Linked DNA regions of Homo sapiens: region 2 is linked to region 1. Evidence: fine-mapped expression QTL. A gene starts in region 1. The other region holds a variant in brackets. All regions are shown on one strand. Distances are between the middles of the regions. Region 1 holds the start of NR1I2 (nuclear receptor subfamily 1 group I member 2). Region 2 overlaps NR1I2 (nuclear receptor subfamily 1 group I member 2).

What was found.
Region 2: its variant is fine-mapped to the expression of NR1I2 in hypothalamus (GTEx, PIP above 0.99). The same link has a PIP of 0.9 or more in whole blood.

Annotation. Positions count from the first base shown.
Region 1 is chr3:119,778,972-119,784,343 of GRCh38, forward strand. It overlaps NR1I2 (nuclear receptor subfamily 1 group I member 2), which reads left to right and starts at 3,130. Exons shown (of 9, transcript NM_003889.4): 1 at 3,130-3,329.
Region 2 is chr3:119,807,169-119,812,540 of GRCh38, forward strand. NR1I2 (nuclear receptor subfamily 1 group I member 2) reads left to right here. Exons shown (of 9, transcript NM_003889.4): 2 at 61-279; 3 at 2,893-3,026; 4 at 4,371-4,558. The coding sequence starts at 83. Among named protein-coding and RNA genes, the nearest start is that of NR1I2, 28 kb to the left of the region's middle. RefSeq lists enhancers at 2,528-3,031, 3,009-3,068 and a silencer at 2,539-2,798. The variant G/T (reference allele first, on the strand shown) is at 3,098.

The DNA of each region.
Region 1 (5,372 bases):
TGCAGTGTAATTTACAAATGAGGTGAAAACAAAGTGTTCCAAAATTCTAAGAGAGACATTGGAATTCTGACCACAAGTGTAATTTATGGAGCCTCAGAGTAATTATAGGATCTGGAACAGCTGGTGCTCAAATTTAGTGGTCCTCCAGTTGCTGGAATCTGCGATTTCTGGGAAGTTAAACTTTGTGTCACTGCTTCTACTTGTGATAAAATGAAACCGCTTTCAAAGAGAAGATTCCTATTCCTAGCCTTTTTGGGTAACTTCTACTACCTCCACTTAAGGATGAAAAGGGAGAAGTTTCCTCCAAGACTGCCTCATGGGGATCAGAGTGTCACCTCCATGCTCCTGCCCTAAGTGCCCCTGAGCACACCCCAGAGGGAGGCTAAGAGATTTTTGAGAAAGACCATGTGACTGGCTGATAAACACCTATTTTCCTCAGATTCCACCTGAATTTATATCATCAGTGCATCACTCTTTTATTTTGTTCTCTCTGTTCCTCTTTTTAAATATTAATATTCTCTGGAGAGGGGTAAAACATTAAATGAATTCACACTGAGGAAACTGGCCAGGTACAATGGCTTATGCCTGTAATTTCAGCAATTTGGGAGGCCAAGGCAGACAGATTGCTTGAGCCCCAGAGTTTGAGACCAGCTTGGGCAACATAATGAGACCTCGTCTCTACAAAAGAAAAACAAAAAAAAAAATTAGCCAAGCATGGTGGCACACACCTGTAGTCTCAGGTATTTGGGATGCTGAGGTGGGAGGATTGCTTTAGCCCAGGAGGTTGAGGCTGCAGTGAGCCATGACCATGCCACTGCACTCCAGCCTGGGTGACACAGCAAAACACTGTCTCAAAAAAAAAAAAGAAACTCTTCAGGCTGATCAGATCTGCTTTTCTCTGATGAGTTTCTTAGGAGCTCTACATTTCTGGTTGCTGCAATAGGCAAAGTATAGAATGGAGGTCAAGGCCTCAAATTTCTCTGACTTCCCAGCTGGGCTTGAGAGTGACTCTGGCCCTCAACTGAGGGCATTAGTAAGCTGTCCTTAAGAACGAGAGTGTATTTTCTGGCTGTATTCTTAACTCATTTCACTATAGAGCCATGTCTGATATTAACAGTGCAGTGCTAGACTAGAGAGGCCTGGCACTCCTACAGCCTTCTCCTGTCTTCTAGCTGGGACTTCACACCACAGACCCAAAGGAAAAGAGACCCAAAGATCCCTGCAGAAACCTGAGAATATTTCCTTTACCTCAGTGGTTTCATAATCTGTTCTTAGTTTCCTGTTTCTGCTGTAAATAATTCACTATATTTTTAAGAGAGAGAAGGTCAGGCCCTTGTGAGCCAGAAGGGATTTGAGAGATGATGAAAGCTACGTATGTTACCCATAACCTAAGGACTTCTGGCAAGGTGGCCTACCTGAGCTGGAGTCATGCCTTTTTTCCCTGGACTTGGAGATACCTGTCAGTGCAGAAAGGCCTACTTTTGATCTTGGAAATAAGTTTCCTGGGGTGAGTTCTTAACCCTTTCCAGCTTTCCCACCCTCTTTGGCTTTAGCCATGGCCTTCTGATCTGTGTTTCTCAGGGGACCTGCAGGCCCCAGATATAGCCCCATGCTGTCCTCCTACCCCAGAGCACACTGTTCAGGCTACTTCCACTGGTACTGAAATCCAGTATTTCACTTACTCTTTTTCTTTCCAATATCCTCATGACATTCAATATTTCACTTACTCTAGGTCCTCCCTGCCTAAGGCCCAAGTCAACTTTCTGTCCAGTGGGATTTGTAATCCAATACCTCCTAGCCCTAGCAGAATCCCATGTGGATAATCAGAAATGTGACTGGAAAAAGGACAGAGCTCTATGGCTGTGGGTCCCAGTCCCCACTGCTGGCAGTAAGTCCCCAGCAGTGAGCTGTGTAAGCACCTTACATTCTGCGCTTGGTTGAAAACAGCAAGGCAAGCATCCACTTGAGAAATGTCAACCCCTAGGAAATCCCAGCCTCAAGTCTTTCTCATCCCTTGGGAAGTGCAAATTGGATAGAGAAGAAACCAATTAAAAACAAAACAAACAAATCATACTTAGATATTCTGGCTTTTCTCACCAGGGCTGGATTAAAGCATGTACTTCAAAATAATAACAACTTAAGTCAATAAATAAATGTAAGGAAGTCCAAATGTTCACCTGAAGACAACTGTGGTCATTTTTTGGCAATCCCAGGTTCTCTTTTCTACCTGTTTGCTCAATCGTGGTCTCCCTCTCCCTCTCTTGTTGGGGCCCATGCCCCTGCTTTACTGTTGCCAGAGGCTTGTACTTGTTTGCCTTTTAGGTAGGAGCAGTTACTTCCACTCCCCTCACCTGCCATAAAGCATCTTTATAAACAAAGCAAGTAGAAGAAACACATCCTGGTATCCACCACATTCGGCTTTTGTTGATTCTGTTCACTTGGGAGCACCTGCTGCTAGGGAATAAGAAGGTTGAGGCTGAAGAGTGAGGACTCTTCAGCTCCCCTCTGGCAGGACCCGGGAGAGGAAAGAGCCCTCAGCTGGTCCATCCTCCCCACTCCTGGTCAGCCTTCTGTTCTGAGATCAAAGTGGTGGGGTCACATTCTCGAGAACTGTGCTCAGCCCCCTCATCTCACACCCTTTCCCTCTCCCTGTGTGCCTGCCCCCCTCTTACATAACCATGCTGGTGATTGGCACCGTCATAAATCAATACTTTGCTCACTTTCACATCAAGTAACACTATCCAGGGAGGTGGTTTCAACAAAGGAGGAAGTATAAGGAGATCTAGGTTCAAATTAATGTTGCCCCTAGTGGTAAAGGACAGAGACCCTCAGACTGATGAAATGCACTCAGAATTACTTAGACAAAGCGGATATTTGCCACTCTCTTCCCCTTTTCCTGTGTTTTTGTAGTGAAGAGACCTGAAAGAAAAAAGTAGGGAGAACATAATGAGAACAAATACGGTAATCTCTTCATTTGCTAGTTCAAGTGCTGGACTTGGGACTTAGGAGGGGCAATGGAGCCGCTTAGTGCCTACATCTGACTTGGACTGAAATATAGGTGAGAGACAAGATTGTCTCATATCCGGGGAAATCATAACCTATGACTAGGACGGGAAGAGGAAGCACTGCCTTTACTTCAGTGGGAATCTCGGCCTCAGCCTGCAAGCCAAGTGTTCACAGTGAGAAAAGCAAGAGAATAAGCTAATACTCCTGTCCTGAACAAGGCAGCGGCTCCTTGGTAAAGCTACTCCTTGATCGATCCTTTGCACCGGATTGTTCAAAGTGGACCCCAGGGGAGAAGTCGGAGCAAAGAACTTACCACCAAGCAGGTATGGTTTTTCTTTCTTTCTCTTTTGCTGGGGGCTGACCGCCCTTCAGCTCCAGCCAAAAGATGTGTGTGAACACAAATATACCTTCTGTTTGAGGTCAGCATCATAGTGGGTCGTGAATCATGTTGGCCTTGCTGCTGTCTCCTCATTTCTAGGGTGGAAAAAAAAAAGCATGAAAACAATCACTTAATGTTGAGCCCCATTACTGATGCTCTCTGGTCCTGCACTAGCCTCCTAGAAAAATCACCACAGGAGAAGCCTTAACTACTGCATGAGTTACCACAAGTCACACATACAACCAGCTCCCTGTTACAGGGCTGGAGTCCCTGGACCCAGGAAATACCACCTCCAAGGACTGTGGGAGCTGGGGACTATGGGAACTGGGATCAACTCAGTCCTGATTCCTTTTGGCCTGCTGGGTTAGTGCTGGCAGCCCCCTGAGGCCAAGGACAGCAGCATGACAGTCACCAGGACTCACCACTTCAAGGAGGGGTCCCTCAGAGCACCTGCCATACCCCTGCACAGTGCTGCGGCTGAGTTGGCTTCAAACCAGTGAGTTTTCTACCTCTACTATTGAAAGGGCACCTTGTCCCACAGAACCGAGTCTTGCCTGCATGTGGTCAGTGCCACCAGGTCCTTCTTCTCTCCACTTTACAGCCCAGCTCGGCTGAAGCTATGGCCAGAGGCACTGCTTTAAGGCCACTCCATATCTAGGACAGGTCAACAGACACCTCTGAGGCCACTGAGTCTTGACTCAATGAATCAGCTATAGCAGGCACTATTCCTCTCCCACATGGCCTCTAATGATATGGTCAGAGTTGAAAGGATGCTAAGGGAGGCCTCAGAGGCTTATTTAATCAGTTGGTTAATGGGAAAAAGTATTTTGTGGTACACAAATACGCTTTAAAAATATTTTAGTTATGTCATAAAAGTCTAAACCTGGGGTTGACAAACTATGGCTCACAGGCTAACTCTGGCCCACCAGCTGTTTTTATAAATGAAGCTTTATTGGAACACAGCCATGCCCATTCGTTATGTATTGTATATGGCTGTTTTTGCCCTACAACATCCTTTCAACTCTGGCCATATCATTAGAGGCCATGTGGGAGAGGAATAGTGCCTGCTATAGCTGATTCATTGAGTCAGCAAAATTGACCAATTGCGAAAGAGACAGTATGGCCCACAAAGCCTAAAATATTAACTATCTGGCCTTTAACAGAAAAAGTTTGCCAACTCCTGATCTAAAAGCTGTCAACTTGTTCCAAAATTATTATGGAATAAACCCAAGACAACCACAAAACTGACTAGACTAGGTTTTTTAGGTAATAACTTTTTAAATTATAAAGTAATACATGATTTCATGCTCCTTGAAAATGAGAAAGCAGTATAGATAAACCTAAATTCACCTTTGGCCATTCTGTCAATCCTAATCTCCAGTTTCCCCAAAAGTACTTAGTGTGATATATTTACTGCCAGACCATTGTGTCTGTGTGTGTGTTCATCTATGCATAGATGGACTATTAAACCTATCTGTTGCCATGTTGTTCTAATTCTGTTTTTCCACTCAATAGCAAGACTTGGAGACTTTCCATATCTGTATAGAGCTCTACTTCATTTATTTTAACTGCTACGTCATATTTCACAGTGTACACTTCTTTTATTTAGCCGTTTTCTTTTCGATAGATATTTAAGCTTTTCCAATTTTTCAGTCTTACCAATGAACCTCACTGTGTTTGTCTGCTTCTAGACATGTGCACGTATTGCACTAGAGGAACTACTAAGACGTTGAATTGCCACATCACAGGATATATGTGGTTCAATTTTTGGCTGCCAAACAGCCCTCCACAGTACCCGAACCGACTGTACTCCCACCAGCAGAGAAGGATAGTTACTGTTCCTCCACACTCCAAACAATGCTTGCTGTTTATTCAGTATTTTATTATTTTTTCCATTGAATTAGTGCAAATGACAACCCATTATTTCAATATTTTAATTTCCCTGATTATTAATGAAGTTGAGCATTCTTTTTATAGGACCCCTCTT
Region 2 (5,372 bases), 28 kb after region 1:
CTGAGGCCTCTACACATCCCTGTCCAGTCTTTTCATTCTCTGTGGTTTTCTCATTTCTAGTCCAAGAGGCCCAGAAGCAAACCTGGAGGTGAGACCCAAAGAAAGCTGGAACCATGCTGACTTTGTACACTGTGAGGACACAGAGTCTGTTCCTGGAAAGCCCAGTGTCAACGCAGATGAGGAAGTCGGAGGTCCCCAAATCTGCCGTGTATGTGGGGACAAGGCCACTGGCTATCACTTCAATGTCATGACATGTGAAGGATGCAAGGGCTTTTTCAGGTAGAGTTACCCATCAGCCTTCACCCACGTGCCACCACTGACCCACTGGGTAACGTCTCAGGGCCTCAGCTTGACCTGTCCCCCAGGTTCAGAGTGTGGGCTGGTGGCCCACCCAAAGGCCTTGTAATTAGTCTCAAGGGAGCCATTTATATCCCAGAGGAATCCTTCATCTTCAGTCTTCCTGTTCTACCCAGGAAAGGTCTCCTTCCATTAAGATATCCCTTGGTTTCTCCATGTGCTCTTGAATAAAATGGAAAATGACTCAGTGAAAGATAAGGAATTTGAAAATCCCAAATCCAAGTGTTCACATCCGCCTTCTGGGGTGGTTGTTACATAAAGAATGGCATAAAATAAATGCTTAGACCATGGGAAGAGAAACAGACCGAAGGGAGGGGAAGGGCGGGGAGGGGAGAAAGCCATGTGTGAGGAAGCACTCCAGGTGCACCCTCCGGAGGGCACAGGGTATGCAAGGAGCAGCTCCCATCTCGGGAGCCACATGTGGGACCCTCATGCATTCCCAAGACAGCCAGCCTGACAGCCCTTTGCAGAGTTCTTCGTGGTGGCTGGGCATTCAAATGGAAAAGGGCAGGTTCCAGGGAGAAATGAACATTCGTGTTGCATGAGTTATAACAGGGGTGAGACACATCAGCAGTGTCAGACTGGGTTCAGCTACAAGTCACAGGACACTTGTCGCCAATTGGTTTGGCAATAAGGAAAATGTGTTACCTCTCCTAACAGGAAGTCTGAAGGCCTCCAGGTTAGTGAGTTCAGCAGCTCATTTCTTTCCATTTTTCTCTTCAGCCATCCCACCTGAGAGCTCTGATTGCAGTCTGGCTCCCCTTGTGGGGGCACAGTGCTGGGGCCCCAGGCAGGAATCATTATGTTCAGCAGAAGCGCACAAAGGCCCATCTTTGAGAGTAAGGAAATCTTTCCCAGGAGTCCCCTCACATTGGCTAGAGCCGGGCCCAGCCTATGCCTGAACTAGTCACTAGCAAAGAGCAGCAGGTATGTCCCTGAGCTGGGCACACGCCACTTGACTGTGTGGAAGAGGGTGGATGTCTGCACCAGCTCCAGATGCTGCTGGCACAGAAGAGGCTGCCCAAGCAGTGTTCGTGCATCCTGCCTCAGCATGCAGGAATCTTCTGCTCTCCCTTCCTCATTTGGGTACTATTCCTGGGACTCTCAGAAAAAGGCAACATGTTGTAGTGGGCAAAAGCTAAATCCAGTATCAGGCAGACCTGGATTCAAATTTCAGCTTGTCATGTACCTGGAGGACAGCTGGGGATCCATCGTCTCCAAGCCTCAGTCTCCCTCATCTGTGCTAGGCAGATGAGATTATGAGTTTCACAGGGTTTTAGAACTAAATTTACAAAACTGCAAAATACCTAGCCTAGCATCTGATACATAGCATACCTTTAAATAATGTGAGCCCCGGTTTCATCTTTTACCCATTCTCAGTGGACTTTGATGTAGCATCAGAGTTTTCTTACCCAGGCCAGTTGGGAAGGCAAAAGGCAGGGATGGCATCTGTGAAGAACATGCCCCTGGGCTGGTCACTGGTCCGAGGCCCGAGGCCTCCAAGCTCAAACCTGCCAGGTCACTGCGGGCTTGGCTCAGCTTCCCAGGCCTGCCCTCGGGGACCTCTGCAGCCCTACCTGGCTGTTCCATGCTCCTGGGCCAGCCTTCCCTCAGTTTCCACTCTGGACCAGAATCAGAGGCCAGAGCCAAGGGAGAGATTGTTTCTTTCCATCCAGCTGTGGAGATGGGGAAAGTAAAGGTAGGACTGCACTGACCGTGTCTTTTGTGGGACAGGCAGGACTTCCGGGCTGGGAGGAGGAGATCTTGTACCAGAGTCTCCAAAAGGCATCTGCCCCATTGCCTCTCTGCGCACCGCAGAGAGGGGTGTGCGGGCCCGTGGGTCCCGCCTGCACGCTCTGCTGTTCCAGGCGCTCGACCTCTTTGCCCCCTAGGTCAACGAGGGGAATCCACTCTGCCATGGGGAAGTCGCTGCCCCGTAGGGTATAAGAACTTCCCCATAGTTCACCCCTTCCTCCCTGGCCGCCCAGTCTGGAAGGGGAGCTGGAGAAGGCGGCGGGGGGTGGGGGGAAGGCGGGGGGGAAGGCGGGGGGGTGGGGCGGGCTTCTCTGGTTTCTTACCCTCCTGGGGTCAGGTTTCCTCAGCTCCCTCCCTTAAGGAGGGGAAATCGAGGAAGAGGCCCATCTCCATGGAAACTTTCTGGTAACAAGGCTGTGAAAGAGAAGGGGACAGGTGTTTCAGGAAGAAGGGAAGGCGCTGAGGATGGGCCTGGAGAGGAAGTGTCCCTGAAAGTGGTTTTGGGGCTGCCCGCGCCAGCGAAAAGCACGTGTCCCATTTCCTGCCGGAATGGCCAGAAAAGGTCTCCTCCCCGGCTCTGCCCCCTCTAGCTGAGTCCTGGACCTCTAGGGACTCCCACCTACACCCTTCCCATAAAGCCTGACCCAGCTGGGACGCAAAGGCTAGTGTCCCCCTCCCCGAGTCGGTAGGGGCTGGGGAGGGAGGTGGTATGGCCCGGAGCCCCAGGCCGAGGGCCCGGGCACCCGTGCATCCCCCCTTCTGCTCCCCATTCTCTCACAGGAGGGCCATGAAACGCAACGCCCGGCTGAGGTGCCCCTTCCGGAAGGGCGCCTGCGAGATCACCCGGAAGACCCGGCGACAGTGCCAGGCCTGCCGCCTGCGCAAGTGCCTGGAGAGCGGCATGAAGAAGGAGAGTGAGCAGTGGGCGCGCGGGCGGGCCGGCGCCGGGGTGCACGGCTCTGAGTAAGGACGTGCCGTGGGTGTG[G/T]GCATGCTTGTGTGGAGATGCGCGCCGAGTGTGCGCGTGAACACACGTGCACATGTGAGCTGGTGTCCGTGTGCAACAGGCAGCCACCTGGGGGAGCGCTTGCAGTCGGCCCTCTGGGAGATGGAGGGAGTCGGTAATCTCTGCCCTGGGATGTGTGCTGGGCAGCCCTGGACAGGGCGTGCCCTCTGTCTCCCCTCAGTTGCTCCTGCATCATTCTTTTTGTCCCCTTCATAATTGTTGTAATGGTTTGAAACCACATTTGCGGGTAGGAGTGTGAATCTGGGGGAGGGAAGCAGGAGCCACATGGGTGATAGGACCCGGGGCCTTCTAGGTGCTAGCCCCATCAGCTGCCCCAGACCTGGATCTTTATAGGGGAACTGTTTGCAGACAGGTGACATGAGGTGTTCTCATTCTACCTATTTAACTTTGATATATTTGTGCTCCTAGGTCACTATGAGATTAAGGCTCATGCGGAAAAGGCTAGGTGTTTCTAGTGCATATTTGTCTCCATGGAACACAAAGGGACCCAAAGCTGCTTCTTTCAAGGACAAGTTCTCTAGGCTGCTGGCAGGCATTCTTGATCTCTCCCCACCAAGGACCTCATAGCTTTGTTCTACACACATGAGTGGGCTCCAGAAATCCACAGAAGACCCTAAGGCTCTGGGCTATATAAGAAGTCTCTGGAGTTGCTATTTCTTGCTAAGCTGTAGCCCAGCTCTCTAGGGTCTTGGAGACCCAGACACCTCTGAAGAGTCTTGGTATATAATTCACCAGAAAATGATAATTGTAGATGCCATTTACTGAACATCTCTTATGTACCAGGAACTATATTAGGCACCCTACATGCAAGGTCTCATTTAACAGCGGTGCGAGGTAAACACGGTTTCTCCGGATCACAAAGGAGAAACCTGGAGGCAGGAGAGGTTAAGGAGGTTGCTTGGGGTCACAGGTAGTAAGTGGCAAAGCTTTCATGCAAACCCAGCGCCTTTGGATTCTGAAGCCCGTGCTCTTGCCAGGGCCCCACAGTGTCCTCACAAACTCCACTGCAGAGGGCAAAACACCAGCCTCACCTCATCTCTGTCCTCACCCAAGTGTTTCTCCAGAAGAGCCCACAGGCCTCTTGAGTCCAGACAGGGGAGAATTGCTTGTCACCATTACTTTCTCTTTTGCCTAACGGCTTCTGCTGCCTTGAGAGGGTTACACAGTGGCTCTCCAGGGGGCTGGAGGCTCACCAGGGGCACGTGTGCCTGAGCCAGCCTCACTGTCCCTGCAGTGATCATGTCCGACGAGGCCGTGGAGGAGAGGCGGGCCTTGATCAAGCGGAAGAAAAGTGAACGGACAGGGACTCAGCCACTGGGAGTGCAGGGGCTGACAGAGGAGCAGCGGATGATGATCAGGGAGCTGATGGACGCTCAGATGAAAACCTTTGACACTACCTTCTCCCATTTCAAGAATTTCCGGGTAGGAGGAACTGCACAGTGACCCGAGGTGTCACTGCCATCTTCATTCTCACATAGAAACTGAGGTTCCCCAAGGATAAGAAACTTATACAAGGTCACAGCTAATCAGTGGTGGAGGGTAGATTTGGAGAGCTGGTCCTGCATCTGTGCTAGCTCCTCAAAGCCTTAGTCTCATTCCCAAAGGTTCTGAAAGTGTGGTCCCTGGGTCAGCAGCATCAGCATGCAGATTTTCAGGTCACCTCAGATCTCCTGAATCTGAAGCTCCAGGGAGGGGCAGGACCCCCCGGTGATTCTGTTGCAGGTTCAGGTTTGAAAAATCACTGCTCTCTCCTTTAAGGCAGGTAGGAACTGGGTCTAAGCAATAAGTGGAGGGAAAGCTAGGCAGTTCCCCAGTGTTGCTGGCATTCGGGGCTTTATGAGGACAGGATCAGGACCTGTTGGGGGTGTGACTTTTGTGAACTGGTGTTTCTTGATCCCAGCACATTAACTATGTCTGTGCTCTAAGTGCCCTCCTTCCCCTTTGCACTGATAGATATCTCAAGTGGCCCTTCACAGCCCAAATAACTGGATTAGCCCAGTGACCTCAGATCTGCTCTTCCCATCCATAGCACCCTAAACCTTCTGAGTCTCCTGAGCCCAACATCTGGAATGCTTGGGATGACACACCATGGTTGCAGTCCCCCTTACCCTCCATTTTAACCAAGCAGGGATGTGTGTGACCATTAATTCATAGATCCCCAAAGCACCTTCATCTGATAGAGAACACCAGAGAGAAGAAACAAATGCTGTGTGTGTATATGTGTGAGGACACACGC